Linked DNA regions of Homo sapiens. The protein of the gene in region 1 interacts with the protein of each later gene in a pairwise test. Each region holds a gene or a part of one and is shown on either strand. Other genes may lie near its edges. The genes, in order: SYNC, PECAM1, KIF1B and ACTA1.

Evidence for each region.
Region 2: the proteins of SYNC (region 1) and PECAM1 interact in binary tests that used the Homo sapiens proteins (3 or more experiments, as listed by UniProt).
Region 3: the proteins of SYNC (region 1) and KIF1B interact in binary tests that used the Homo sapiens proteins (3 or more experiments, as listed by UniProt).
Region 4: the proteins of SYNC (region 1) and ACTA1 interact in binary tests that used the Homo sapiens proteins (3 or more experiments, as listed by UniProt).

Annotation. Positions count from the first base shown.
Region 1 is NC_000001.11:32,699,771-32,707,823, reverse strand, and holds the start of SYNC (syncoilin), read left to right. Parts: upstream 1-5,053; 5' UTR 5,054-5,163; coding exon 5,164-5,216; intron 5,217-8,053.
Region 2 is NC_000017.11:64,359,770-64,366,920, forward strand, and holds part of PECAM1 (platelet endothelial cell adhesion molecule precursor), read right to left. Parts: intron 3,629-7,151; coding exon 3,380-3,628; intron 647-3,379; coding exon 371-646; intron 1-370. UniProt on the Homo sapiens protein: Cell adhesion molecule which is required for leukocyte transendothelial migration (TEM) under most inflammatory conditions.
Region 3 is NC_000001.11:10,206,368-10,213,648, reverse strand, and holds the start of KIF1B (kinesin-like protein KIF1B), read right to left. Parts: upstream 3,080-7,281; 5' UTR 2,771-3,079; intron 2,034-2,770; exon of another isoform or gene 1,911-2,033; intron 1-1,910. UniProt on the Homo sapiens protein: Has a plus-end-directed microtubule motor activity and functions as a motor for transport of vesicles and organelles along microtubules.
Region 4 is NC_000001.11:229,431,028-229,438,308, reverse strand, and holds ACTA1 (actin, alpha skeletal muscle), read left to right. Parts: upstream 1-4,214; 5' UTR 4,215-4,305; intron 4,306-5,181; 5' UTR 5,182-5,193; coding exon 5,194-5,322; intron 5,323-5,428; coding exon 5,429-5,753; intron 5,754-5,877; coding exon 5,878-6,039; intron 6,040-6,123; coding exon 6,124-6,315; intron 6,316-6,406; coding exon 6,407-6,588; intron 6,589-6,666; coding exon 6,667-6,810; 3' UTR 6,811-7,064; downstream 7,065-7,281. UniProt on the Homo sapiens protein: Actins are highly conserved proteins that are involved in various types of cell motility and are ubiquitously expressed in all eukaryotic cells.

The DNA.
Region 1 (8,053 bases):
ACACTCAAACACTCAGTGTTTGCCAGAAGAGGATTTAATGAAGAGACCATTCACAGAGGTGTGGGCAGGAATGGCGGAGCACCTGGGACTCGCAATGGTGGAATGGAATCATTACCCCTGGGCCTGAAGGAGCAGGGGAGGGAGCCTTGTTAAGGAACCTGGCCAGAGCTGTACCCATGGGTACAAACCACCCAACAGGAGCCATGGCTTTTGGGGGAGGAATATAGTTAATGCCAAAGTCACAGGCAGGGAGGGGGCATAATAAATATCTTTATCTAGGCTGGGTGTGATGGCTCACACCTATAATCCCAGCACTTTGAGAGGCTGAAGCGGGTGGATCACCTGAGGTCAGGAGTTTGAGACCAGCCTGGCCAACATGGCAAAATCCTGTCTCTTTGTATTTTGTAAAAATACAAAAATTAGCTGGGTGTGGTAGCACATGCTTGTAGTCCCAGCTACTTGGGAGGCTGAGGCACGAGAATCACTTGAACCCAGGAGGTGGAGGTTGCAGTGAGCTGAGATCATGGCACTGCACTCCAGCCTGGGTGACAAAGCGAGACTCTGTCCCCCCAAAAATAAAAAATAAAATAAAAATAAATATCTTGATCTCACTCTCCTCCCTCTCTGATCTCCTGCCAGGGTCCCCAGTTTGGCCAAACCCCACCTGAAACCAGAAGGCAAGGGGGCCCAGGAGACGCTGGCCGCAGGAGTCAGCTCCTGGACACAAAGCTCTGAGAAGGAAGGTTAGGCTAAGAGTAGCCAGCCCAGGGGCCTCTCTCCTCCTCCTGGGTTTGGCTTTGTGGAGGGGCTGAGAGTTAAGAGTGGCTGCGCTTGTCCTTCAAAGCAGAGTCTGTGCCTGATTCCTGATTCCAGAACAGCTTTTCTCATCCTTCCAGGCCCAGGTACTTTGTTCACGAGGCCATCCCCAGTCCCGGAGTTAATTTCTCCCATCCATCCCTGGCTTCCCTGGTTCTCAATGTCTATCACATCACTCAGCCCAGTGATTTGGCATTATTTTCTGCATAGGTTTTTCTCCCCAGGAGACGGTTCTAGCTTCCTCTACACTGAAAGCTTCTTGCAGGCTTGGGCCAAATAAGGCTGTTTGCTCTGACACAGGGCCCAGCACAGCCCAAGTGCCAATGTTTGCCAAGTGAGCTGAATCTTATGGGCTCAAATACCTCACACTGCCTTGCTGTATGCAATCTGGGCACATGTGTGTCTGTCTCCCTGAGTAGACTGGGGCTCCTGAGAGGTGAGTGGCCCAGGCCTAGCACACAGCAGGCATCAAATATTGCCTAAATTAGCCTAAGTAAAACCATCCTCCTTCCCTTCATTCATTCAACAATTTTTTTGGAGCTTCCAGATAGCTGAACATATGGAGGTTCCTGGAGGATGGTGTGCCCAGGGAGGGGATGGAAGCTTCATGCCCCTTCCTCCATAACTCTGCCCTATTCATCTCTTCATCTGTATCCTTTTCAATATCCTTTATAATAAGCCACTAAAGCTAAATATGGCCATGTGACTGAGCTCTGGCAATAGGACACAATCAGAAGTGGTGTGAGGTGAGCGACCCCTCCTTTTTACTTTCATTGGATAGAATGAGGCATTAGAAGGGAGCTTGGACTGGTCTTGGATGGGTGTGGATTAGGGCCACAGTCTGGAGATGGTGGAAGACCAAGCTGTGATTCTGCATCTTTGGCAGATTGTATTTTCCCAAGACAGAGGCAATACTATATCCCATTCCATAAGCTCTTCTTATACTGTGACTTTGACACACCCTTCCCATTAAAAGGTGGCATCTATGTCCCCTCCCCATGAGCTGGAGGCCCGGGTTTTTGTGACTGCCTTTAGCAACAGAATAGGTCAGCAGTGACAGTGTGTAGCTTCCAAGGCTAGCTCAAAAAAAATGCCTTTCACTTCTGCCTTGTTCTTTTGGGACGTTTACTGTTGGGACTTAGCCACCATGCCATGAGGAAGCACAAGCAACCCGTGGAAAAGCCCATGTGGAGGAGAACCAAGACCCCCAGCCAAATACCCTGCTGAGCTCCCAGCTGACAGACCGCATCAACTTGCCAGCCACATGAGTGAGCTGTCCTGGACGCGAGTTCTGCAACCTCTGGGCAAGCCACCTCAGCTGATGCCACGTGAAGCAGAAATGAGCTGCCTCCACCAAGCCGTGCCCAAATCACAGATCTGTGGGTAAAATAAATGATTGTTATTATTATAAAAAACAAAAACAAACAATTTTTTTAAGGTCCTACTATGTGGTAGTCCCTGTGCTGGGCTCTGGAGACACAGCAGTAAACAAGACACATAAAGTCTCTGCCCTCATGGGGCTTCCATTCTAGTGGGGAAGCAGAGAAGAAAATAATTGAAAATGAATAGTATTGGCCGGGAGCGGTGGCTCATGCCTGCAATCCCAGCACTTTGGGAGGCCGAGATGGGCGAATCACGAGGTCAGGAAATCGAGACCATCCTGGCTAACACGGTGAAACCCCGTCTCTACTAAAAATACAAAAAAATTAGCTGGGCATGATTGCAGGCACCTGTAGTCCCAGCTACTCCGGAGGCTGAGGCAGGAGAATGGCCTGAACCCAGGAGGCGGAGCTTGCAGTGAGCTGAGATTGCACCACTGCACTCCAGCTTGGGCAACAGAGTGAGACTCCGTCTCAAAAAAAAAAGAAAGAAAATGAATAGTATTGTTGCAGATTGATAAGTGCTGCACAGAAAATAAACAGGGTGACAGGGATAAACAGTAAATGGGGTGAGGCATGGTGGCTCCTGCTTGTAATCCCAGCACTTTGGGAGGCTGAGTCTGGAGGATCCCTTGAGGCCAGGAGTTTGAGATCAGCCTTAACAACATAGTGAGACCCCATCTCTATTAAATAAAATTTTACAAAACCCAACAAAACAAAAAAGCCCATAACAAAAAAATAAATGGGTGGACATTATGGGCAGGGGGTGGGGAGGCATCAGAGAAGGCCTCTGTGAGATGTGATCTGAGACCTGAAGGAGAGTAAAAGGTGGGCTGTGAAGAGCTGGAAAGGGTTTTCTAGGCAGAGGGAGCAGCAGAAAAGGCCTGGCTGGGTGTGGTGGCTCACTCCTGTAATCCCAGCACTTTGGGAGGCTGAGGTAGGAGGACTGCTTGAGCCTAGGAGTTTGAGACCAGCCTAGGCAACACAGTGAGACCTCGTCTTTACAAAAAATACAAAAATTATCCAGGTGTGGTGGTGTGCATCTGTAGTTCCAGCTACTCGGGAGGCTGAGATGGGAGGATCACCTGAGCCCAGGAGGTTGAGGCTGCCGTGAACCATGATTGCACCACCGTACTCCTGCCTGGATGACAGAGTGAGACCCTGACTGCAAGAAACAACAGCAACAAAAAAAACAACAACAAAGGCTTGGAGGTGGGGAAGTTTCTGGGACCCTGGGGAATTCAGGGTTTCAGCCTAAAGAAGCGCTGAGCAGGAGGGTAGGAGCGGGTCAGAAATTCAGTCCTAGGGACAGCCTAAGGCCAGGTCCTGGGCTGGGGGTTGGAGGGGCAGAGCCAGCTCTTCTGAATGCCACCCTTGCCGCCTGTTGCTTGGTACCACAGCAAACAGAGCCTCTGGCAGGCCTGCCCTTGCTGCCTTAGCTCTCCTCTGGCGGGCAGCAGATGTCAAATGCCCAGCAGCTGAGGCTTCGCCAGCCTCCTCCCCTGGAATAGTTCGGGGGTAAGTCAGAAAATGACCAGCAGCCTCAAAACCTGGCTTTTTCTCGTGCGTACCTTACAAGGGTATATTTGGCTGCCCTGGGTGTTAAATCTTCCACCCCCTTGCATTAGACAGAGAAATATAAATATACAGCCACAGGCAGCACACTCAGACGCGAGGATGAATGAACATTTATCAACCCCCAGTCACGCACAAGCACACAGTCAGAGTCACAAGCGGGACCATATGCATGCCCCCCACACAGAGTCAAAACCGCCAGCCCCACAAAGACACTCCACCATGGCACAATCACCACACACATTCACCCTGAGATCACACAATCACACATCCACATGCTCACACACAGACATGTACCCCACAATCACCGCAGAGTCACACAGGGGCACACAAGCCCACACACATTCAACACCACGGCATGCTTCCCCCACCGGCCTCCCAGGCACCCCAGCCCCTGGGGCTTGTTATGGTGCCAGCATTCTTCTGCGATTGAGTCAAAGACCTCCCCAGACAGGGTAGCTAAGTGGAAAAAGGAATCCGAAGGAAGAACGCCTGAAGCCCAGGTCTGGGAAGGGGCCCAGCAGCTTCTCTCTTGGGGAGAAAGACGTCAGTGCTGGTTTGACCCTCACACTAGTGGGCTGAGGACGTGGGGGGAGGTATGTCTTGAAGTTGACAGAAGTGGGCTGAGTGGGGTGACAGGTGGAGCAGGAGAGAGACCCCAGGAAGCCTCAAAGGGTGGGGCAGAAAGTGGGGTTAAATATGGACTCAATGTGATAGGCGTAAACTCCTCCGCAGTTCTCTCTAACCCCAGCCACCCAGCCCGCCCCCAGGCTCCAGGCTGTCCCCAAACGCGCGGGGTGTGGCCGTGAACCCTCCTCCCCGGCCGCGCCCTGCCCCGCCCTTCACGACAGCTGCCGGGGACAGCCCGGAGTGCCCAGAGGGTGGCTGCGGCCCTTCCCCTCTTGGGTGGGGACCAGAGGGCGCTGAGCGGCAGCGGACACCCCCAAACACTCGCGGGAGAGGGGTGCTGGCTCCCTTTGAGCAGCCCGCCCAACCCTGCCTCCACCCTCCCAGGCTGGACAGGGAAGGTGCTCCCTGGGGCTTCAGACCCCCCTTCTGACTCCCCCTGCAACGGGACCTCACGAAAGGAAGGGTGGAGAGAAGGTTCGGGAAGACGAGGGGGCTGGGAGGTTTGGAAAGACAGCTCCAGGCCCCCGTTCCCACCCCCGCCCCAGGCTGGTCCGGGAGGGGCAGCCTCTCCCCGCCCCCAGGTCCGCGCGGCCGCTCCCTCCTCCCCCGGCAGGAGCCCCGGCCAAGTGGGCGCGCCCGGCCCGGGGCCGGCCGGGATCCGGTGTCGGTTGCAGCTGGCAGTGCGGCGGGCGCGGGCGCCGGAGCGAGGGGCCCGCGGGCCCGGCTATTAATAACGCGGCCGCCAGCCCGGGGTCGCGCAGCCATGGCCAGCCCGGAGCCCCGGCGCGGCGGGGACGGCGCCGCCCAGGCCGCGAGGTAGGACAGTGCCGGGCCCGCGTCGCCGCCCCGCTGGGGAAGGGGTGCTGCTGGACGGGTTCCCTTTCCCCCCGACCGCGGGCGTCTTTCGCCTGTCTAGGGGTAGTGGTCCAGCCGGGGTGGGGCACTGGAGCCGCCTCGTGAGGGGACATCGGGGAGTCGGGCCGTCCCGGGGTCCTGGCACCTCCGTTTGTCTGTGGCTTTTTATAATACCCCTCCCCCTCCCGGGACTACATGAAAATTAACCCTTCCAGGCGAGTGGGCATCCACCGCTCAAGTGCCATTTGGCCCATAGCAGCCAAAGACACTTCTCGCTAGCCTTCATTCCTCCCTGCAAATGTCAGTTGGAGACAGAGGCCTCCCCTGCTGAAGTGGCTGTGTGGAAGCCACTTGGTGCAAGGCTGGGCATCTGCCAGCTTGAAGTTAAGAGTCTGTCAGGGCTTGTTCTCTCCCGTCTGGCCTGGGATGGGTGGGGGAAGGGTCCAGGGGCCCTCCCCACTATCCCTCCTGGCAGGGCACGGCTGATTATTGGGGGAAGGGACCTGTGGCTGAGGGGTTTGGGGTGAGGTGTATTTCTGTCCCAGGTCATACTGTGGCTCTGGGACTTCCCAGTGTACCAAGAGGTGAGGGTGCAAATACATAGCTCCCGACACCCCTTCACTGTCACACAGGGGCACAAAGCTGAGCGGTCTTACACACACACACTCACCCATACTGCTGTCCACACCTACAGCTACAGTCAGACACACGGACTCTTGCCTGCACAATGTCACATGGACTCCCAGCCACATCCCTGAACAGGGTTGGAGAGCTCTGCGGTTCTCTGGGGACAGGGACAGAGTGGCAGAGGCAGGCTGCCCAGGGCCCAAGGAAGCCCGAGGTCAGGGGCCCCAACTAAGCTGGCTTCCTCTCCTCTGAGCCTCCTGTCATCTGCTTCTTTCCCTCCTCTCTCTGTTTAAAAGAGGCGGCTGTGTGAGGGCAGCACCCAGCAGAGGCCTGGCACCATGGGTGGGGTGGTGGAGGCAGCACGATGTGTGCTAACAGCACAGCTTGGAGGTCAGGAGGCCTGGGTTTTACTTCCAGCTTTGCCATTCGACCTTGGGCAGATTTCCTCCTTGGAGTTCATCTGGTTTCTGCCTGTCTGCCCTTACAGAGCCCCACCCTAGGATATAGAGCAGAATGAGAACTCTGCTTGTCCTTAGGAAACTCACTATCAGGGAGACAGACACATGTACTTCTGTAACTGGAGCAATAAGTGTGAAGATGTGCTGCATACAGAGTGCCCTGAGAACACACATGGGGCTGTCTGGGAGATACTTTACGGAAGAGATGAAGTTTGAGCAGGGCTTGAAGGATGAGTAGAAATTTGTTAGATAGATAGAAGTATATTGTGGGCCCGGCGCGGTGGCTCACGCCTGTAATCCCAGCACTTTGGGACGCCGAGGTGTGCGGATCACCTGAGGTCAGGAGTTCAAGACCAGCCCGGCCAACATGGTGAAACCCGGCTCTACTAAAAATACAAAAATTAGCCAGGCGTGGTGGCGTGTGCCTGTAATCCCAGTTACTTGGGAGGCTGAGACAGGAGACTTGCTTGAACCCAGGAGGCAGAGGCTGCAGTGAGCGGAGATTACACCATTGCACTCCAGCCTGGGCAACAAGAGTGAAACTCCATCTCAAAAAAAAAAAAAGTATATTGTGACTGCTGCATGCCAGGCTTTTTATATGTGCTGTAGTTACCTCTTTTGGACCTCACGCCTATCCTAGGAGGGTGGTAAATACTGCAGGCCTTCTCCAGCCTCCACCACTTACAACAGTTGTGGAACCTTGTGTGAGTTCTTACTCTGTGCATTGGCTTCCTCATCTATAAAATGGAGATAATAGATGAAGATTCTTTCTTTCTTTCTTTTTTTGAGACAGAGTCTTGCTCTTGTTGCTCAGGCTGGAGGGCAATGGCGCAATCTCAGTTCACTGCAACCTCTGTCTCCCAGGTTCAAGCAATCCTCCTGCTTCAGCCTCCTGAGTAGCTAGGATTACAGGCACACACCACCATACCCAGCTAATCGTTTGTATTTTTAGTAGAGACGGAGTTTCACCATGTTGGCCAGGCTGGTCTCAAACTCCTGACCTCAGGTGATCCACCCGCCTCGGCCTCCCAAAGTGCTGGGATTACAGGCGTGAGCCACTGCACCCAGCCAATAGATGATGAGGATTCTATAAATGAGTATTCATGTAAAATGCCTAGAATAATCTTGAACACGGTGAAGTCATTCCAAGGTGGGCGGCTCGGCACGAGAATGATGAAAGGGCCGTCTGCTGGGAAAGCAGGGACTGTTGAATATCAGAGTGAGTTTGGCTGGCTGAGCAGGTGCATCCTTCCTGGCCCTGGCTCTAGGAGCTCTGCCTTCCCAGGTAGTACAGGGTTCTCTAGTTAGGTGGTTTTTGAGAAGCTGCAATTCTCAGCTGGACACCGTGGGCTTAGAGTAGGAGGTGTAAAAAGTTAATGCAAGCTCTAGGATGTCAAGCATTGGGTGGGTTGCAGGAATAATGTGAGAGGAAGCTAAAAAAGGTATGTTTGGGGCCGGGTGTGGTGGCTTATGCCTGTAATCCCAGCACTTTGGGAGGCCGAGGCAGGCGGATCATGAGGTCAGGAGTTCGAGACCAGCCTGACCAAGATGGTGAAACCCTGTCTCTTCTAAAAATACAAAAAATTAGCCAGGCATGGTGGTGGGCGCCTGTAGTCTCAGCTACTCGGGAGGCTGAGGTAGAGAATTGCTTGAAACCAGGAGCCGGAGGTTGCAGTGAGCCGAGATTGCACCACTGCACTCCAGCCTGGGCAA
Region 2 (7,151 bases), on another chromosome or scaffold:
TTAGATGGAGTTTCGCTCTTGTTGCTCAGGCTGGAGTGCAATGGCGCAACTTGGCTCAGTGCAACCTCTGCTTCCTGGGTTCAAGCAATTCTCCTGCCTCAGCCTCCCGAGTGGCTGGGATTATAGGCGCACGCCACCATGCCCAGCTAATTTTTGTATTTTTAGTAGAGATGGGGTTTCACCATGTTGGCCAGGCTGGTCTTGAACTCCTGGCCTCAATGATTCACCGGCCTTGGCCTCCTAAAGTGCTGGGATTACAGGCATGAGCCACCGCACCTGGCCCCCTACTTCTCTTATTGTTCCCACAGTCCCTGGGCGTGAAAGAATGCCCCAAGCCCACATGATTTCTTCTCACAGCACAGCAACTTACCTATCACCTTCACCCTCAGAACCTCACTTAACATTTTGGCATGGGAATGGCAATTATCTGCAACACACTGGTATTCGACGTCTTCAGTGGGGTTGTCTTTGAATACCGCAGGATCATTTGAGTTCTTGGTACTATTCTCCAAAACTTTACTTGTTTTTAAAAGTTGGTAAGAAATAGGCAAAGTTCCACTGATCGATTCGCAACGGACTTCGATGGTCTGTCCTTTTATGACCTCAAACTGGGCATCATAAGAAATCCTGGGCTGGGAGAGCATTTCTAGAACAGAGGGAGAAACAATCCAAAAGGCACTGAAGGTAAAAGCAAAGCATCCAGCACAAGAGGTTCCTCCTCCAAAGCCTGAGCTTTGCTTTCTATCCCTGCTGTAATTTCAAATGCCTGCCTGCCTTATTTACCTTTATAGGACACCTATGAGACTGACAGGCTGTGTGTGTGTGTGTGTGTGTGTGTGTGTGTGTGTGGTGAGAAGGGAAAGGGAAAGAGAAGTACAATAAGCAAAACAGAGAATGACAGAAATTCAAGGAAAACATTACATCCCCAGAAATACATGTTCATATTTTACCATATCTCACACGCACATGCACACATAATATACTTTTCTTGTGTTGAGCAAAGACACAGAAAACATAGAAAAAGTACAACAAGTAGCCAACAAAATGTGTGTGTGTGTGTGTGTGTGTGTGTGTGTATTTGAGACAGGGTCTCACTCTATTACCCAGGCTGGAGTGCACTGGTGCGATGACAGCTCACTACAACCTCCCAGAATCAAGCAATCCTCCTACCTCAGCCTCCCGAGTAGCTGGGACTATAGGTGCACACCACACCTGGCTAATTCTTTATTTTTTGTAGAGACAGGGTCTCACTATGTGCTCAGGCTGGTCTTGAACTCCTGGACTCAAGTGATCCTCCCACATCAGCTGCCCAAAGTGCTGGGATTATAAGTATGAGCCACCACACCTGGCTGAGCATATATGTGTGTGTGTGTGTGTGTGTGTGTGTGTGTTCTGAGACCGAGTCTTGCTCTGTCACCCAGGCTGGAGTGCAATGGCGCAATCTCAGCTGACCACAACCTCCACCTCCTGGGTCCAAGGGATTCTCCTGCCTCAGCCTCCCGAGTAGCTGGGATTACAGGCATGTGCCACCACACCCGGCTAACTTTTGTATTTTTAGTAGAGAGGGGGTTTCACCATGTTGGCCAGGCTGGCCTCAAACTCCTGACCTCAGGTGATCCACCCACCTTGGCCTGCCAAATTGTTGGGATTACAGGTGTGAGCCACCAGGTCCAGCCAATATATATGTTTTTAAATTATTCTCAGCCAGTCACGGTGGCTCATGCCTGTAATCCCAGCACTTTGGGAGGCCGAGGTGGGCAGATCACCTGAGGTCAGGACTTTAAGACCAGCCTGACCAATGTAGAGAAACCCCGTCTCTACTGAAAATACAAAATTAGCTGGGCAAGGTGGCACATGCCTGTAATCCTAGCTACTCGGGAGGCTGAGGCAGGAGAATCGCTTGAACCCGGGAGGCAGAGGTTGCAGTGAGCCGAGATCATGTCATTGCACTCCAGCCTGGGTAACAAGAGCAAAACTCCATCTCAAAAAAAAAAAAAAAAAAAAAAGATAAAAAAAGTCTTCTTAGTGCTTCAGCCTCTTAACAGATAAGAATTATATTAGGTCATTATTTAGGCATTAGTTTATTTAAACCTTATACAATGAGATTTCCTCCTCCCAAGAACAAAAAATAAAATAAAACGTTATAACACACATTTGTCTCTTGCATTCCTGCCTTTTGAGTTAGGTGGTTAGAGCATTAAAAATAGGCTAAAATCCTGGTTCAGTTGAAGCTATAATAAAATCTTAGCTGGATAAAACACAGCCACAGGTTAAATGAAAGGATCGTGACTGAATAATATAGTGACAGTGACAACTTGACTGGAGTTCTATAATCAACCAGAATCTCGCCACCCAAAGTGTGGTCCAGAGACCAACAGCATCCACATCACCAAAATGCTAGTTAGAGATGCAGAACCTGGCCCCATCTGGGCCTAAAATACTGAATCATAACCTGTATTTTAACCAGGTCTTGCATGCACATTCAGGCCTGAGAAGCCCAGCTCCTGGTGGTCAAATACCTACATTCTGTCCACTGGAAGTCTTACCCTTTTGGGTTAGCCAGGATACAGATTTAAAAAATGGAATTTTGATATTCTTGGCCGGGTGTGGTGGCTCAGGCCTGTAATCCCAGGACTTTGGGAGGCTGAGGCAGGCAGATCACGAGGTCAGGAGATGGAGACCATCCTGGCTAACACGGTGAAACCCCATCTCTACTAAAAATACAAAAAAATATTATCCGGGCGTGGTTGCGGGTGCCTGTAGTCCCAGCTACTTGGGAGGCTGAGGCAGGAGAATGGCGTGAACCCAGGAGGCGGAGCTTGCAGTGAGCCCAGATTGTGCCACTGCACTCCAGCCTGGGTGACAGAGCGAGACTGCATCTCAAAAAAATAAATAAATAAATAAATAAAAGTAATAAAAATAAAAATACAAAAATTAGGCAGACATGGTGGTGGGCACCTGTAATCCCAGCTACTTGGGAGGCTGAGGCAGGAGATCACTTGAACCTAGGAGGCAGAGGTTGCAGTGAGCTATCGTGCCACTGCACTCTAGCCTGGGCGACACGTCTCAAAAAAAAAAAAAAGAAAAGTTTAACATTGACTAAGTAGTGTTTCCTTCCTGAACTTTTGGGTGGGTACTTGCTCCAGGAGGCAGAATCTTGCCAGAATCTTAGCAAGTCAGAGGCCACATCATCATCAGTGAATCAGTGTTCTGAGCAGGAATACCTCCTTGTTTCTTTGGCCTTTGATTTCGCACTTCTCTCCCTCTAGTTCTTACCCTGCCTGAGTCTGCTCAGACCGGAGAGGGCGGCAGCTGCAGATAAATTTCCTTTCTCCCATTCAACCCTGGATGTCCTCTGAGTCAGCAACAATATACTCACCACATACGACTATCTGGACTGTGTTGCTTTTCTTGACCACTTTGTCAATACCTGCAGTGCAGATATACGTCCCACTGTCCGACTTTGAGGCTATCTTGGTGAAATCTTGAGTCTGTGACACAATCGTATCTTCCTTCTGGATGGTGAAGTTGGCTGGAGGTGCTCCTGGGATGGAGCAGGACAGGTTCAGTCTTTCACCTTGGTCCAGATGTGTGAAGGAAGATTCCAGTTCGGGCTTGGAAAATAGTTCTGAAAAACAGTGAGTGGGAATGGAGCGAGATGTGTCTGGCCACCACCCTAAAGACCCTTCCTGGAGAGGCCCTTGGCTCAGGTGCTCTTGGCAGAACCAACTTCCAACTTCCAGCAAAAAGTTTTCCTTTGCTTCTCATGTACCTAACGATCACCCCAGTAAGGAGCTAGGGTTCATTCTTTGCCTAGGATTCCAATGGCAGGTTTTCCTTTCTTGTTAATCCAATTTATTTCAATGACAAGGATTAGAAAAGTTTTGCAACTTGTGGCCAGGTGTGGTGGCTCATGCCTGTAATCCCAGCACTTTGGGAGGCAGAGGTGGGTGGATCACCTGAGGTCAGGAGTTGAGACCAGCCTGGGCAACATGGTGAAACCCCATCTCTACTAAAAATATAAAATTAGCCAGCATGGTGGTGGGCGCCTGTAATCCCAGATACTTGGGAGGCTGAGGCAAGAGAATCCCTTGAACCCAGGAGACAGAGATTGCAGTGAGCCGAGATTGCTCCACTGCACTCCAGCCTGGGCAACAAGAATGAAACTCCTTAAGCTAGCAGAAGGCAAGAAATAACTAAAATCAGAGCAGAACTGAAGGAAATAGAGACACAAAAAACCCTTCAAAAAATTAATGAATCCAGGAGCTGGTTTTTTGAAAGGATCAACAAAATTGATAGACCGCTAGCAAGCCTAATAAAGAAAAAAAGAGAGAAGAATCAAATACACGCAATAAAAAATGATAAAGGGGATATCATCACCGATCCCACAGAAATACAAACTACCATCAGAGAATACTACAAACACCTCTAAGCAAATAAACTAGAAAATCTAGGAGAAATGGATAAATTCCTCAACACACACACTCTCCCAAGACTAAACCAGGAAGAAGTTGAATCTCTGAATAGACCAATAACGGGATCTGAAATTGTGGCAATAATCAATAGCTTACCAACCAAAAAGAGTCCAGGACCAGATGGATTCACAGCCGAATTCTACCAGAGGTACAAGGAGGAACTGGTACCATTCCTTCTGAAACTATTCCAGTCAATAGAAAAAGAGGGAATCCTCCCTCAGGATGATGAGGCCAGCATCATCCTGATACCAAAGCCGGGCAGAGATACAACCAAAAAAGAGAATTTTAGACCAATATCCTTGATGAACATTGATGCAAAAATCCTCAATAAAATACTGGCAAACCAAATCCAGCAGCACATCAAAAAGCTTATCCACCATGATCAAGTGGGCTTCATCCCTGGGATGCAAGGCTGGTTCAATATACACAAATCAATAAATGTAATCCAGCATATAAACAGAACCAAAGACAAAAACCACATGATTATCTCAATAGACGCAGAAAAGGCCTTTGACAAAATTCAACAACCCTTCATGATAAAAACTCTCAATAAATTAGGTATTGATGGGACGTATCTCAAAATAATAAGAGCTATCTATGACAAACCCACAGCCAATATCATACTGAATGGGCAAAAACTGGAAGCATTCCCTTTGAAAACTGGCACAAGACAGGGATGCCTTCTCTCACCACTCCTATTCAACATAGTGTTGGAAGTTCTGGCCAGGGCAATTAGGCAGGAGAAGGAAATAAAGGGTATTCAATTAGGAAAAGAGGAAGTCAAATTGTCCCTGTTTGCAGATGACATGATTGGATATCTAGAAAACCCCATTGTCTCAGCCCAAAATCTCCTTAAGCTGATAAGCAACTTCAGCAAAGTCTCAGGATACAAAATCAATGTACAAAAATCACAAGCATTCTTATACACCAATAACAGACAAACAGAGAGCCAAATCATGAGTGAACTCCCATTCACAATTGCTTCAAAGAGAATAAAACACCTAGGAATCCAACTTACAAGGGACATGAAGGACCTCTTCAAGGAAAACTACAAACCACTGCTCAATGAAATAAAAGAGGATACAAACAAATGGAAGAACATTCCATGGTCATGGGTAGGAAGAATCAATATCGTGAAAATGGCCATACTGCCCAAGGTAATTTATAGATTCAATGCCATCCCCATCAAGCTACCAATGACTTTCTTCACAGAATTGGAAAAAACTACTTTAAAGTTCATATGGAACCAAAAAAGAGCCCGCATCACCAAGTCAATCCTAAGCCAAAAGAACAAAGCTGGAGACATCACGCAACCTGACTTCAAACTATACTACAAGGCTACAGTAACCAAAACAGCATGGTACTGGTACCAAAACAGAGATATAGATCAATGGAACGGAACAGAGCCCTCAGGAATAACGCCGCATATCAACAACTATCTGATCTTTGACAAACCTGAGAAAAACAAGCAATGGGGAAAGGATTCCCTATTTAATAAATGGTGCTGGGAAAACTGGCTAGCCACATGTAGAAAGCTGAAACTGGATCCCTTCCTTACACCTTATACAAAAATTAATTCAAGATGGATTAAAGACTTAAACATTAGACCTAAAACCATAAAAACCCTAGAAGAAAACCTAGGCATTACCATTCAGGACATAGGCATGGGCAAGGACTTCATGTCTAAAACACCAAAAGCAATGGCAACAAAAGCCAAAATTGACAAATGGGCTCTAATTAAACTAAAGAGTTTCTGCACAGCAAAAGAAACTACCATCAGAGTGAACAGGCAACCTACAAAATGGGAGAAAATTTTTGCAACCTACTCATCTGACAAAGGGCTAATATCCAGAATCTACAATGAACTCAAACAAATTTACAAGAAAAAAACAAACAACCCCATCAAAAAGTGGGCGAAGGACATGAACAGACACTTCTCAAAAGAAGACATTTATACAGCCAAAAAACACATGAAAAAATGCTCACCATCACTGGCCATCAGAGAAATGCAAATCAAAACCGCTATGAGATACCATCTCACACCAGTTAGAATGGCGATCATTAAAAAGTCAGGAAACAACAGGTGCTGGAGAGGATGTGGAGAAACAGGAACACTTTTACACTGTTGGTGGGACTGTAAACTAGTTCAACCATTGTGGAAGTCAGTGTGGCGATTCCTCAGGGATCTAGAACTAGAAATACCATTTGACCCAGCCATCCCATTACTGGGTATATACCCAAAGGACTATAAATCATGCTGCTATAAAGACACATGCACACGTATGTTTATTGTGGCACTATTCACAATAGCAAAGACTTGGAACCAATCCAAATGTCCAACAATGATAGACCAGATTAAGAAAATGTGGCACATATACACCATGGAATACTATGCAGCCATAAAAAACGATGAGTTCATGTCCTTTGTAGGGACATGGATGAAATTGGAAATCATCATTCTCAGTAAACTATAGCAAGGACAAAAAACCAAACACCGCATCTTCTCACTCATAGGTGGGAATTGAACAATGAGAACACATGGACACAGGAAGGGGAACATCACACTCTGGGGACTGTAGTGGGGTGGGGGGAGGGGGGAGGGATAGCATTAGGAGATATACCTAATGCTAAATGACGAGTTAATGGGTGCGGTACACCAGCATGGCACATGTATAC
Region 3 (7,281 bases), about 22 Mb from region 1:
TTATGAAATTATATCATGTTAGTTTACAAGACCAAAAGGATATGCTTCCTCCTGGAAAAGATCTACTATGATTAGCAGCCTGGGAAGGGGATTACAAACAGGAAGGCAGGGGGCCCATTGTCCTTTACTTTGTACCCAGGACAAGACCACAGTGAGAAAATGGGCTAAAAAGCTTTGGCCTTAAGAAAGACTCCGTTGGCAGACTTTCTTGGACACTTATTCCCTGCACGAAATCAAAATGGGAAAGAAGAAAGAGAGAAAAAAGGAAAAGTGCATTCATATCTGGTCTTGAAAAGGAAAAACAGTCTGTTCTAAGCCTTAAAAGCTATACTTAATTGGATAAATTTTGGAAAAACACTCATCAGAGCAGAGCTACACATACTCATAAAACCTAGCCTCTGTATCAGATTCACAATCAGGTCTGATTTTACCAAATGCTGAAATTATTTTTAATCAAAAATATTCAGATCTTTATACTAATAAAGTAACTCTAAAAATTAAAAACTTAGAAATACTTCTAACTTAGGGCATGGAATTTCAAAACAGACATTCTGTATTTCTCTCATACTAGTGTAATGCAAAAAACACTAGTTTCTGTTGAAGTTACATTTGATTCAACAAGTTTTAAAACTAAAGCTTGATGACAAAAATAACAAAAAAATAGTGTTAAGACCTTGCTTAGCAAAAGCTATCCAAATTTTTTAAATGTGTGTGTGTATATATATATATATATATATATATATATATATATATATATACACACACGCATGCACACACACACATATATATATACACATTTTTTTTTTTAGCCAGGGTCTTGCTGTTGCCCAGGCTAGCCTCAAGCAATCCTCCCACCTCAGTCTCCCAAATAGCTGGGAATACAGGCATGAGCCACCATGCCCAGGTATTTATTTATTCATTTATTTTTGTAGAGACAGAGTCCCACTCTGTTGCCCAGGGTGGTCTCGAACTCCTGAGCTCAAGGGATCCTCCTGTCTCAGCCTCCCAAAGTGTTGGGATTACAAGGCATGAGCCACCACACCCATCCCAAAATTTTTTACATAGTTCAACCTGAGAAGTTATGAGAATGTATTTATGAACAAATTGAACTTGAATGAAAGCAAAGGCCACAAAGAAGAAAGCAGGCATGCCATCTCTCCAGGTCCTGTCCACATCTAGGATATAGAAAAGAACAGATCTACAGACTCATGCTGAACCCAGTTATTGATCATCTCCAGACCTGCTTTACAATACCAACCTATGTGTAATTCTCATATTCCACCTTCAAACAATACATTAACAACACTTGCTCTATAATCCAGCAACCATATCAACTTAATCAGAAAGCACCACCTCACTTCTTAGAGGAACACAAGAACTAGATTTTGTTATGACTAAACTAAGGAGACAAAATGCCAGCCTTTAAATAAAATATCCACCATGATATCACCTCTTAAGAGTTATTCAAATCTCATCAGCACACTTTCATCAGGCTCAGACAGGCACATCATGACACAAAGCGGAATGTTCAATGGTGGCAGAACAGCTGCTCAGAGCAGTAAGAGATATGAGCAAGGGATCTGTTGACAATCTAATTTCAGCTACCTCGAGATTCCACAAAGATGACAGCCTGCGTCCTCAGAAATGCCGCCACTAGCCTCGCCCACTATCAGAATACTCTGGTTTACTTCTTCTCTGCAAGTCGAGCGACTCTGAAAATCTATCCATCCAATGCTCTACGGCTACTCGAGGCCTCCATACTGATACAGTGGCCTTAGCAATTCTCAGATCGGCCTATGCACATGTAAAGCATCAGCAGGCCTTTCACAGCCCCCGCACTGGACGCAGAAGATGAATAGAGAAACACGGAATTTCACCCCAACAAGAATGGAATCTTGAAGGCAGTTTACCTTGGAAGCTCATTTAGCAATCAAGGAAAAAAAAAAAAAGGGATCTGGAAGCTCCATTCTGGCGTTAGGGGCGGGAATGTTTTGTGTTGCATGAACAATGACTAGCTTGCTCAAGCAGCCTCCCAACCCCCACAACTTGGCTTCTGGTCTGGCCAGTCACCCTGAAAGCTGCCAGGGCTGTCACTCGGTGCCTTCCAACAACTGGACTTGGCTCCTAAAGGATTTGTCAGATCATCCTCCCAATATGGCTGCCCGAGTAATCCCAGTCGGCTGAATGCCGAGACCACACCAGCCTTCCTCACACCTGGCCAGCATCCAACAAGCCCCCTCCCTTCCTATCGCACCCCTCTTTCCAGGCCTCGAGCCCTCGGCTCCCCCAGCGCCAAGCGATGACCTTTCCTATCGCCATCTGGCAAAGGGCATAACCACATTCCCAGCCGAAGCCCGATGCCCACCACAAAGGAGGAAAGGGGAGAGGGAAAATGAGAAACGATGGCTTCAAACGAAGCACAGCCGCCCCCCGGGCTGCAACGTGCGCGGAGCCCAGGGAACGGCCAGGCAGCGGCGGGTCTGGAGAGCGCTGGGCACAGCCGGGGCCTGGCAGCGCGGGGGAAACGGAGGGCCGGTGCAGGGCACTGCGGGGGCCCCAGCCGACCGCTGGACGCCGGCCCGGGACTCGCTGCTGGCCTAGGGAGGGGTCCCCTCCCCCGAGGGCGAGGCTCCCGCACCCGGCGCCCGTCCCGCGCTACCTCCCCTCAGACCCCGCCCGGACCCCGGCCCGGCCGCTCCTCCCCGCGGAAGCGGCCCCCTCCCCAACCCCGCGACCGCGGCGCCAACCGCGGCCAGCCCCGCCGCCTTACCTCAGCCGCGCTGCAGACCGACGGGCGGACCGGGTCAACAGGAGCCGCGGCGCGCGGGGGCGCGGGGGGCCGGGCACCGACGCACCTCAGCGCGAGCAGCGGCCGCCGCGAGCCGCAGGGCGCCGCTCCGCAGCCCCATCACGCAGCAGCCCGGCACCGCATCGAGGTGGGAGGTGGGCGGTGGGCGGCGGACAGGAGTGCGCGAGTGCGGGAGGCCAGGGCGCGGCGACGGCCGGCGGTGACGGCTGCGGAGGACGGGGAGCTGCTCCGACGCGCGCGGGCGCCTCCCAGGACCGCTGCCGTCACACTGCCCCGCTTCGGCCCTCGCGAAACTCCGCCCGCAGTCGCCGGCGCGGGACACCGCCCCGAGCTGGGCCTCTGCGCGTCACCTCGTATCCGCCCCGGCGCCCGCGACGGACACGGGCTGTGACCAATCACAGCACAGAGCTCGGGGCGGCCAGCCAATCGTAGGGTGAGCCGGGGAGTGGGGCTGCTGCGGGGGGCTGCAGGAACATCGAGCGCCCCCTGGTGGCCCTCGGGCCGGCTCAACCAGGGGTGCGGGCTGGCCAAAGCCGGAGCCCGGAGTTCCCTCCCGGGTGACCCCCAAGGGCATTCGTCGGAATCAGCCGCCCCCAGCCACCCCGATAATCCGCCTTATACGGGGACAAAAGATTGACTGAGTGGAGCGGGGCGGGGCCCAGGGGTCCTGACGCCCGCAGAGGAGCTGGGATCAACATGGGAGGCGCCGAGAGTGGAATCATTGTCCGTCGGAAAACATCTCGCAGGCGGAACCGGCCGAACGCGGCGCGGTGGGAGCGGAACCCCGAGAGGGGATGAGCGCATCCCGCGGGAAGCTGCCTGGCCTATTCTTACAGAACCCGAGCAAAACACCTCCCACGCGCCACCTCGGGAGAGAAGGCGGAATGAGTAATGGAAAAGCATGACTTGGTGGGCATTCCACTTGTCTCCTTGGGAGACCGCGGAAGGGCTGTGAGGAGAGGAACAAACGCTTTGCACCGTCCCTGAGTTAACGAGCCCAGCCCCCTTCTGGGAGATGCCCTTGAAGGAGGGAGAGTGGAAGTTAGAAACCCGGAGGACACAAAAGCACGAGCAGTGATTTCTTTAAAATCAGATTTAGATTCAGCTGGAAAGAAAAATCTCACTGTTCAGAAACTGTTCAATTCAGTACTTAACAAAATATAATCTTCAGTGATAATATATTCAATTATCAGGCCCAGGCCGAGCACTATTACTTTATAAGGTTGTGAATTATTTTTATTTACTAGCAGACATTGAAAGTAAAATCACATGTCTTCCCCTGAATTAAATACAGTATTATTGTGAGTAAAAGGTATTATGTACAAGCATATGCACTAAAACATCGAAATTAATTTTCTACACTAATAATTCTGGAAAATCTCCACCACCACTCAAGTCCTCAGACTCTTCATCCGCTTTTATTGATCACGTCTCATTTTATAGAATTTAAGCTCCACCTACCTGCAAAAGGATTTGACATAGCTTACACTAAAGCATACAGCAGTGAAACCGTATAGCTTTAAAATAGGCGTAAAATTCATAATAATGAAACAAGCAAGAGACTTTTTAAAAGCTGTTTGAATGAGAGGCATGCCTAGAAAGAAAAATTTTTTTGTTTTGTTTTGAGACAGAGTTTTACTCTCGCCCAGGCTGAGCTCAGTGGCACGATGTCAAATCTCTGCAACCTCCGCCTCCCAGGTTCAAGCGATTCTCCTGCCTCAGCCTCCCGAGTAGCTGGGATTACAGGTGCCTGCCACCACGCCCGGCTAATTTTTGTATTTTTAGTAGAGACGGTGTTTCACTATGTTGGTCAGGTTGGTCTTGAACTCCTGACCTCAGGTGATCCACCTGTCTCAGCCTCTCAAAGTGCTGGGATTACAGGAATGAGCCACCGCGCCCGGCCAGAAAAACAATATTTTAAAAATCCATAGTCAAGGAAATATGTTGCCACTGAGCACAGAACTCAGCTCTTAGCTTCCTGACGGCTAAGAGTAAAATGAAACTATAGTAGGTTAATAAAGAGGAACTCATCAATTCAACAGTAGACACCACTTCATCATAGCGTGGACCTCCTTGCGTAAATACTGTGGTGAGCGCCATGGAGAGTTACGAAAACCTGGGTGGCTGTATTGCTTGAGCTCTCAATGGAGCACAATCTAAAAAGAATCTAAAACGTAGTGAAGAACCAGGCGCGGTGGCTCACGACAGTAATCCCAACACTTTGGGAGGCTGAGGCGGGTGGATCACTTGAGGTCAGGAGTTCGAGACCAGCCTGACCAACATGGCAAAACCCCATCTCTACTAAAAAATACAAAAATTAGCCAGGCGTGGTGGGCACGCCTGTAATACCAGCTACTTGGGAACCTGAGGCAGGAGAATCACTTGAACCCGGGAGGTGGACGAGGCGGCAGTTGCAGTGAGCTGAGATCCTACCACTGAACTCCAGCCTGGGAGATAGAGTGAGACTCTGTCTCAACAAAAAATAAAATAAAATTTAAAACAAAAACGTAGTGAAGAGGGTGTGATTGTGATTGGCAGGAGAAGAAGCTAGCCAAAGGGCACACAGAAGGCACAGAAGGGTCAATAAAGGCAAAGAAGGCTGCTCCAGGATCCAAGGCCAAACAGCCCACTCTGCATAAGCCTTTTGCCTCTCTGACAGATGAAGTCACACTGCCCAGCCAGTTTCTCAGATTACAAATTCTGTATAAAAGCATCTCTTTAAAATGATAAATAAATTACTAGAAAATTGAATGTAGCCATGATCTGGTAGGGCTGTCTCTGGAATGCAAGGATACGAGAACATCAGAAGTCCTAGTCACGTGGTGCACTGCCACTCTCCCATCACAATCACAATCACAATCAGGTTTCTGGATACAAAATCAATACACAAAAATCCGAAGTGTTCCTTTTTGATAGGAAGACTTTATTATTACTATTATTTTAGACAGGGTCTCACTCTGTCACCCAGGCTGGAGTGCAGTGGTGTGATCACAGCTTACTACAGCCTCAACCCTTGCCCCCTGGTTTAATCCATCCTCCCACCTCAGCCTCCTGAGTAGGTGGCACTATAGGCACACACCACCACGCCCAGCTAATTTTTCTATTTTTTGTAGAGACGGCTGGTATCCAGCTCCTGGACTCCAGTGATCCATCAACCTCAGCCTCCCAAAGTGCTGGGACTACAGGTGTGAGCCACTGAGCCTGGCCTTTATTGCTATTTTTAATGGGATCTTTTTAAAAAATCAAGTCTTCCCGGCCAGGTGCTGTGGCCCACGCCTGTAATCCCAGTACTTTGGGAGGCAGAGTAGGCTGATCGCTTGAGCCTAGGAGTTTGAGACAAGCCTAGGCAACATAACGAGACCCTATCTCTACAAAAAATACAAAAAAAAAAAAAAAAGTAGCCAGACATGGTGGTATGTACCTGTAGTCCCAGCTGCTTGGGAGGCTGAGTGGGAAGATCAATTGAGCCTGGAAGGTCAAGGCTACAGTGAGCTATGATTGCACCACAGCACTCGAGCCTCAATGACAGAGTGAGATCCTGTCTCAAAAAAAAAAAGAAAGAAAGAAAAAAAGCAATAAAAGCTATTCAATATTTAAGAATAAATGCACCTGTAATCCCAGCACTTTGGGAGGCCCAGGTGGGTGAATCACTTGAGGTAAGGAGTTCGAGACCAGCCTAGCCAACATGGTGAAACACAGTCTCTACTAAAAATACAAAAAATTAGCCAGATGTGGTGGTACATGCCTGTAATCCCAGCTACTCGGGAGGCTGAGGCAGGAGAATGGCGTGAACCCAGGAGGTGGAGCTTGCAGTGAGCCGAGATCTCACCACTGCAGTCCAGCCTGGGTGACAGAGCGAGACTCTGTCTCAAAAAAAAAAAAAAAAAGGTGCAGGATAATAGGTGCGGGACAGTGGCATTTATACATAAAGTCTGAAGTATGAATATGAGCACTATACTGTTTAGGACTAAATTTATGTATAGTCAAGTGTGAAAACATGGATGGCAATGACAATCATCAAATTCAGGATGAGATTAACCCAGGAAAGAAAGAGAGAAAAACAAAACAAACAAACAAAAAAAGGGAGGATGACATGAGGATCTGCAACTTTATGTGTAATATTTTATTTCTTGAAAAACAAAATAACAGGAAGATGGAAATGTTGAGTTGGGAGGAAAAACCAGAGAATTTATTGATTTGTCTTGAACTCCTTATTGTTATTATTATTTTTTGTTTGTTTTTTGAGATGGAGTCTCGTTCTGTCGCCCAGGCTGGAGTTCGGAGGTGCTATTTCTGCCGTTGATGATTTTCCGCCTTCCATTTTCTTCTCTGGAAATGTCTATTATTGATTGATTGATTGACCGATTAATTGATTTAGAGACAGAGTCTCCCCTTCTCACCCAGGCTGGAGTGCAGTGACTCGATCTCGGCTCACTGCAACCTCTGCCCCCCAGGTTCAAGCGGAGCGATTC
Region 4 (7,281 bases), about 200 Mb from region 1:
ATGACTTTAATGTTCTTTTCTCACCTTTTCTGCCACTGCACTGTGTGCACCTGCCCCAAGCCCTTAGTCATTGGAAGCAAGACATGGCACCATGTGCTGAATGTTTCATATGTCTTAGGTACTCACCTAGTTTGTTGTTTTGTTTTTGGTTTTGGTTTTGGTTTTTTGAGACGGAGTCTTGCTCTGTTCCTAGGCTGGAGTGCAGTAGCGCAATCTCAGCTCACTGCAGCCTGTCTCTTGGGTTCAAGAGATTCTCCTGCCTCAGCCTCCCTAGTAGCTGGGATTACAGGCACCCGCCACCATGCCCAGCTAATTTTTTTGTATTTTTAGTAGAGACCAGGTTTCACCATGTTGGCCAGGCTGGTGTTGAACTCCTGACCTCAAGTGATCTGTCCACCTGGGCCTCCCAAAGTGCTGGGATTACAGACGTGAGCCACCGCACTCAGCTCTCACCTGGTTTTAATCCTCAGATCAGTCTTAAGGAGTATTGTGAGTTGAGAATGCTTTCTGGAAAGTCACTTGTCCAAGATCACATAGCCAGTCAGAGGGGAAGGTAAATGCAGCTCTGCTTGATTCCAGAATGCAAGCTCCTAACCAGTTCATGATATTCTGGGTATAAAGAATGTTGAAGAGAGGGCACTGCTCCAATGAATCATCAGGTTCTTAGAGGTGGCCATGAGTGCAAAAACCACCAGCTTCAGGAGGAGGAAAAAGTAGAAAATCCAAGCCCAAGCCCTTTCTTTGGGCTGCCAGGAGTTGACTCAACTTTTTTTTTTTTTTTTTTTTTGAGATGGAGTCTCTCTCTGTTGCCCAGGCCTGGCGTGCAGTGGTGGGATCTCGGCTCACTGCAACCTCTGCCTCCCAGGTTCAAGTGATTCTCCTGTCTCAGCCTCCCGAGTAGCTGGGATTATAGGTGTGCACCACCACGCCTGGCTAATTTTTGTGTTTTTAGTAGAGACGGGGTTTCACCATGTTGGCCAGGCTGGTCTTGAACTCCTGACCTCAAGTGATCCACCAGCCTCGGCTTCCCAAAGTGCTGGGATTACAGGCATGGGCCACCGCGCCTGGCCGACCCGACGTTTTTAAGTAGCTTGTGAGAATGAGTTGGTCTTTGTCTACCCTGTTCCTGGAATATCTCTAACTTGGAGTGCCCAGCCAGCCCCTCAAAGCTGAGTTTCTGGGGAAGCTACGGCTTTTCATGTCAGGATGTCTTTGGCTCATTACTGGGAAAGATCCCTCAAGGGCCTGTTCTGTTTCGAACTGTACCCAGTGTTGGTGAGGATTAGAGAGAAGCAGCAGTCCTTGCCCTCCCTGGCCACTGGCAGTAGAAGGAAGGACAGCCCAAGCCCGTCTCCTCCACTGGCTGCTGTGGAACCTGGGGTGTGTTTTAGCTCATTAAGCCTCAGTTTTCTTTAAAAAAGAAAAAAAACTGGAATGAGTAATACCTATCTTATTTACCTTAGGATAGTTAAACGGTTAATTGAAACACGAAAGCATATTATAAAGTGTTTTACCAATTCCTGTTTAAATTGATAGGAAACACAGTAGGAAGACTGGAACTGAGCAAGATTGGGGTACGGGTGTGTGGAGTGTTGAGGGGCACAATTGGAGAGAAGGGAAGTGTGAACACACCGGGGTAGTGGTAGCAGAAGGGCCCGGTCAGGGTATGAAGAGCTGAGGCTGCACCTGAAAACTTAGAAGCAGGAACTCCCTGTCAAGCATACCCTACATGGCTGACCTTTACTTAGTGACAGTTCTCAAAAGGCGGAGCAGGGCGCCGCTGCGCTCCCCCAAAACATACATGTATGGAGACGTGGCTCTGCCACCCACCATTCAGTCTATTCTCTAAGCCAATGAGAATGCAACAAGACCAGAATGGGACTGAGGGTGGCCTGTGGTGACCTGTCAGGGACTATTTAAACCAGCCGCAAATCATGTGGGCAGGGAACAGATGCCTGGCTGGCCACCTCAGGGGCCATCTCCCACAGTTTGCTGTACTAGCAGGTCTCTGTTCGCTTGTGAGTGTTTTTAATCATGGTCAGCTTTTAGTGTGGGTTTGAATGTAACAGACTGAGCTTAGAAAAGCTTTCTGTAAGGAAAGGTAAGAGTTGAACTGAGCAAGAGTTTTGAAAAATAGTGACAATCCCATTCTCCTTTGGAATGCGCACAAATATTGAGGTATCCAGTGAACGGCAGCAAATTTCCTACCTTCAAGGCCCAAATGTAAGCTAGTCCCCTTACGTTACATGCAGCTCATTTGCTAAGTGGTTTTTTTCTAGTATCTCCACTACTCGCTGACACAGGAGGACACAGGATGTTAAAAAGGAAATACAGTTCTGTCAATTATTCACTTACTCTCCAAAATACTTGGAAGAACTAAATATGGAACCATAGGAGACTTTATCCTCACCGCATAGTCCCTATACTAGTCAAACTCCTTATTTTTTAATTGATCATTTTTAGGAAGGTAGCATTTTATTCACTAGAACATTTTTGTTAATACTTGTTTATTTTTGGGATGAACTGCCATGATGTGGGCTACAGAGGAGGGTCGCATATGCTTCCATCCCCCTTTTAGAGAATCCACACCTGTCCCAGTTGCTGGGTTCCACTACCAAAAGTGAATTGCAACTATTTTAGGAGCACTTAAGCACATCCGAAAAATGAGTGATTCTGTTCTGGCCCACACCACATCACTGATGTACCCCCTTAAAGCATGTCCCTGAGTTCATCACAGAAGACTGCTCCTCCTGTGCCCTCCACAAGGTTAGAACTGTCCTTGTCTTAGGGAAAAAGGAGAGAGAGAGAGAGAGAGAGAGAGAGAGAGAGAGAGAGAGAGAGAGAGAGGGACAGGCACCAACTGGGTAACCTCTGCTGACCCCCACTCTACTTTACCATAAGTAGCTCCAAATCCTTCTAGAAAATCTGAAAGGCATAGCCCCATATATCAGTGATATAAATAGAACCTGCAGCAGGCTCTGGTAAATGATGACTACAAGGTGGACTGGGAGGCAGCCCGGCCTTGGCAGGCATCATCCTCTAAATATAAAGATGAGTTTGTTCAGCCTTTGCAGAAGGAAAAACTGCCACCCATCCTAGAGTGCCGCGTCCTTGTCCCCCCACCCCCTCCAATTTATTGGGAGGAAGGACCAGCTAAGCCTCATCTAGGAAGAGCCCCTCACCCATCTCCACCTCCACTCCAGGTCTAGCCAGTCCTGGGTTGTGACCCTTGTCTTTCAGCCCCAGGAGAGGGACACACATAGTGCCACCAAAGAGGCTGGGGGAGGGCCTCAGCCCACCAAAACCTGGGGCCAGTGCGTCCTACAGGAGGGGAACCCTCACCCCTTCAATCCCTTTAGGAGACCCAAGGGCGCTGCGCGTCCCTGAGGCGGACAGCTCCGTGTGCTCAGGCTTTGCGCCTGACAGGCCTATCCCCGGGAGCCCCCGCGCCTCCTCCCCGGCGCTCCGCCCTCGCCTCCCCCCGCCAGTTGTCTATCCTGCGACAGCTGCGCGCCCTCCGGCCGCCGGTGGCCCTCTGTGCGGTGGGGGAAGGGGTCGACGTGGCTCAGCTTTTTGGATTCAGGGAGCTCGGGGGTGGGAAGAGAGAAATGGAGTTCCAGGGGCGTAAAGGAGAGGGAGTTCGCCTTCCTTCCCTTCCTGAGACTCAGGAGTGACTGCTTCTCCAATCCTCCCAAGCCCACCACTCCACACGACTCCCTCTTCCCGGTAGTCGCAAGTGGGAGTTTGGGGATCTGAGCAAAGAACCCGAAGAGGAGTTGAAATATTGGAAGTCAGCAGTCAGGCACCTTCCCGAGCGCCCAGGGCGCTCAGAGTGGACATGGTTGGGGAGGCCTTTGGGACAGGTGCGGTTCCCGGAGCGCAGGCGCACACATGCACCCACCGGCGAACGCGGTGACCCTCGCCCCACCCCATCCCCTCCGGCGGGCAACTGGGTCGGGTCAGGAGGGGCAAACCCGCTAGGGAGACACTCCATATACGGCCCGGCCCGCGTTACCTGGGACCGGGCCAACCCGCTCCTTCTTTGGTCAACGCAGGGGACCCGGGCGGGGGCCCAGGCCGCGAACCGGCCGAGGGAGGGGGCTCTAGTGCCCAACACCCAAATATGGCTCGAGAAGGGCAGCGACATTCCTGCGGGGTGGCGCGGAGGGAATGCCCGCGGGCTATATAAAACCTGAGCAGAGGGACAAGCGGCCACCGCAGCGGACAGCGCCAAGTGAAGCCTCGCTTCCCCTCCGCGGCGACCAGGGCCCGAGCCGAGAGTAGCAGTTGTAGCTACCCGCCCAGGTAGGGCAGGAGTTGGGAGGGGACAGGGGGACAGGGCACTACCGAGGGGAACCTGAAGGACTCCGGGGCAGAACCCAGTCGGTTCACCTGGTCAGCCCCAGGCCTGCGCCCTGAGCGCTGTGCCTCGTCTCCGGAGCCACACGCGCTTTAAAAAGGAGGCAAGACAGTCAGCCTCTGGAAATTAGACTTCTCCAAATTTTTCTCTAGCCCCTTTGGGCTCCTTTACCTGGCATGTAGGATGTGCCTAGGGAGATAAACGGTTTTGCTTTAGTTGTCGCCAAGGCAGTTCCCTTCCAAACTAGCGCTAGAGCGAATGAGCGAGCAGCCAGGACCACCCATTCTGGGTTTCCAACAGGCGAAAAGGCCCTTTCTGAGTTTGAAATGTCACAGGGTTCCTAACAGGCCACTCTTCCCTGGATGGGGTGCCAACGCCTTTCCCATGGGCATCTCCTTCCACCCTCACGCTGGCCCAGCAAGCAGGCAGTGCTGAGGCCTTATCTCCCTAGGTGACAGATGTGGTCAGGGAGGCGCAGAGAGGATGGGCACTAGCGTCCAGCTCCTGGAACAGGTGTCAGGCAGGGAGGGCAGACAGGTCTTGGGGAACATGTTCCCCTGGCTATGTGGACAGAGGACTTCTCAGTGGGGTCTCGCGACCCTGTGCCCCTTTTCCTGGTTCAGGGCAGCCCTTAGCCGGGGCAAAGGTCGAGAAGAGAACCCCTGGTCGCCGCCCTGGCAGAATTTGAGTGGCTCCGGCAGGAGATGTCCCTAGGTTCCTGGGGAGGGAGGACGTCGGGGCCAGCCAGGCTTACCCCCCCCTGCCGCTGAGACTTCTGCGCTGATGCACCGCGCCTCTTCGCGGTCTCCCTGTCCTTGCAGAAACTAGACACAATGTGCGACGAAGACGAGACCACCGCCCTCGTGTGCGACAATGGCTCCGGCCTGGTGAAAGCCGGCTTCGCCGGGGATGACGCCCCTAGGGCCGTGTTCCCGTCCATCGTGGGCCGCCCCCGACACCAGGTCAGGCTGCCCCTCCGCAGAGGGAGCCGGCTCGGGGTCCCCGCGTAAGCCAGCCTGGTGCCACCCGGAGCGGCGTTAACGGGTGCGTGGTGTCTCGGCTCTGCAGGGCGTCATGGTCGGTATGGGTCAGAAAGATTCCTACGTGGGCGACGAGGCTCAGAGCAAGAGAGGTATCCTGACCCTGAAGTACCCTATCGAGCACGGCATCATCACCAACTGGGATGACATGGAGAAGATCTGGCACCACACCTTCTACAACGAGCTTCGCGTGGCTCCCGAGGAGCACCCCACCCTGCTCACCGAGGCCCCCCTCAATCCCAAGGCCAACCGCGAGAAGATGACCCAGATCATGTTTGAGACCTTCAACGTGCCCGCCATGTACGTGGCCATCCAGGCCGTGCTGTCCCTCTACGCCTCCGGCAGGACCACCGGTGAGTGCCCGCTGCCCCCAGTCCCCTCTCCCGCCCCCGCCCCCGCCCCCGCCCCCGCCGCTAGCGCTGAGAGCCTAGCCTCGGCCTCGCCCCCAGCCACTCACTCTCTCCCGCGCGCGCACAGGCATCGTGCTGGACTCCGGCGACGGCGTCACCCACAACGTGCCCATTTATGAGGGCTACGCGCTGCCGCACGCCATCATGCGCCTGGACCTGGCGGGCCGCGATCTCACCGACTACCTGATGAAGATCCTCACTGAGCGTGGCTACTCCTTCGTGACCACAGGTGCGCGGCGCCCCTGCACCCCGGGCGGGAGGGCCGGCGGCGGCCCCTGAGTGAGGGCTCCTCTCCTGCTTCTGCCCTCCGCAGCTGAGCGCGAGATCGTGCGCGACATCAAGGAGAAGCTGTGCTACGTGGCCCTGGACTTCGAGAACGAGATGGCGACGGCCGCCTCCTCCTCCTCCCTGGAAAAGAGCTACGAGCTGCCAGACGGGCAGGTCATCACCATCGGCAACGAGCGCTTCCGCTGCCCGGAGACGCTCTTCCAGCCCTCCTTCATCGGTGAGCCCCGCTCGCCCTCGCCCCGGCCCCCAGGCCCCGCCGGCCCCCGGCGCCCCGAGCTTCTGCTCACGCTCCCCGCCGCGGTCCCCAGGTATGGAGTCGGCGGGCATTCACGAGACCACCTACAACAGCATCATGAAGTGTGACATCGACATCAGGAAGGACCTGTATGCCAACAACGTCATGTCGGGGGGCACCACGATGTACCCTGGGATCGCTGACCGCATGCAGAAAGAGATCACCGCGCTGGCACCCAGCACCATGAAGATCAAGGTGGGTGGTGGCCTGCGCGGGCTGTCGGCGGGGTGGGCTCCAGGGTGAGGTCTCCCCACCTCACGCGCTGTCTTGCAGATCATCGCCCCGCCGGAGCGCAAATACTCGGTGTGGATCGGCGGCTCCATCCTGGCCTCGCTGTCCACCTTCCAGCAGATGTGGATCACCAAGCAGGAGTACGACGAGGCCGGCCCTTCCATCGTCCACCGCAAATGCTTCTAGACACACTCCACCTCCAGCACGCGACTTCTCAGGACGACGAATCTTCTCAATGGGGGGGCGGCTGAGCTCCAGCCACCCCGCAGTCACTTTCTTTGTAACAACTTCCGTTGCTGCCATCGTAAACTGACACAGTGTTTATAACGTGTACATACATTAACTTATTACCTCATTTTGTTATTTTTCGAAACAAAGCCCTGTGGAAGAAAATGGAAAACTTGAAGAAGCATTAAAGTCATTCTGTTAAGCTGCGTAAAGTGGTCGTGTTTATTTGCTTGGGGCGGGAGTGGAGCAGGAAGAGGGATTCCCATCCCCCACATCCTCTTAAGTCACTTTTCACGATACCCCAAATGAATGGGCTCCTTGGAAGACAAAACTTACATCTTCCCATGCTCCCCTGCCGGTTTCTGCAGTGGATCAGATCCATTCCAGATCACTGGCAGCTAGTGGTGGCCTGACTTGACCCTCTGGGGT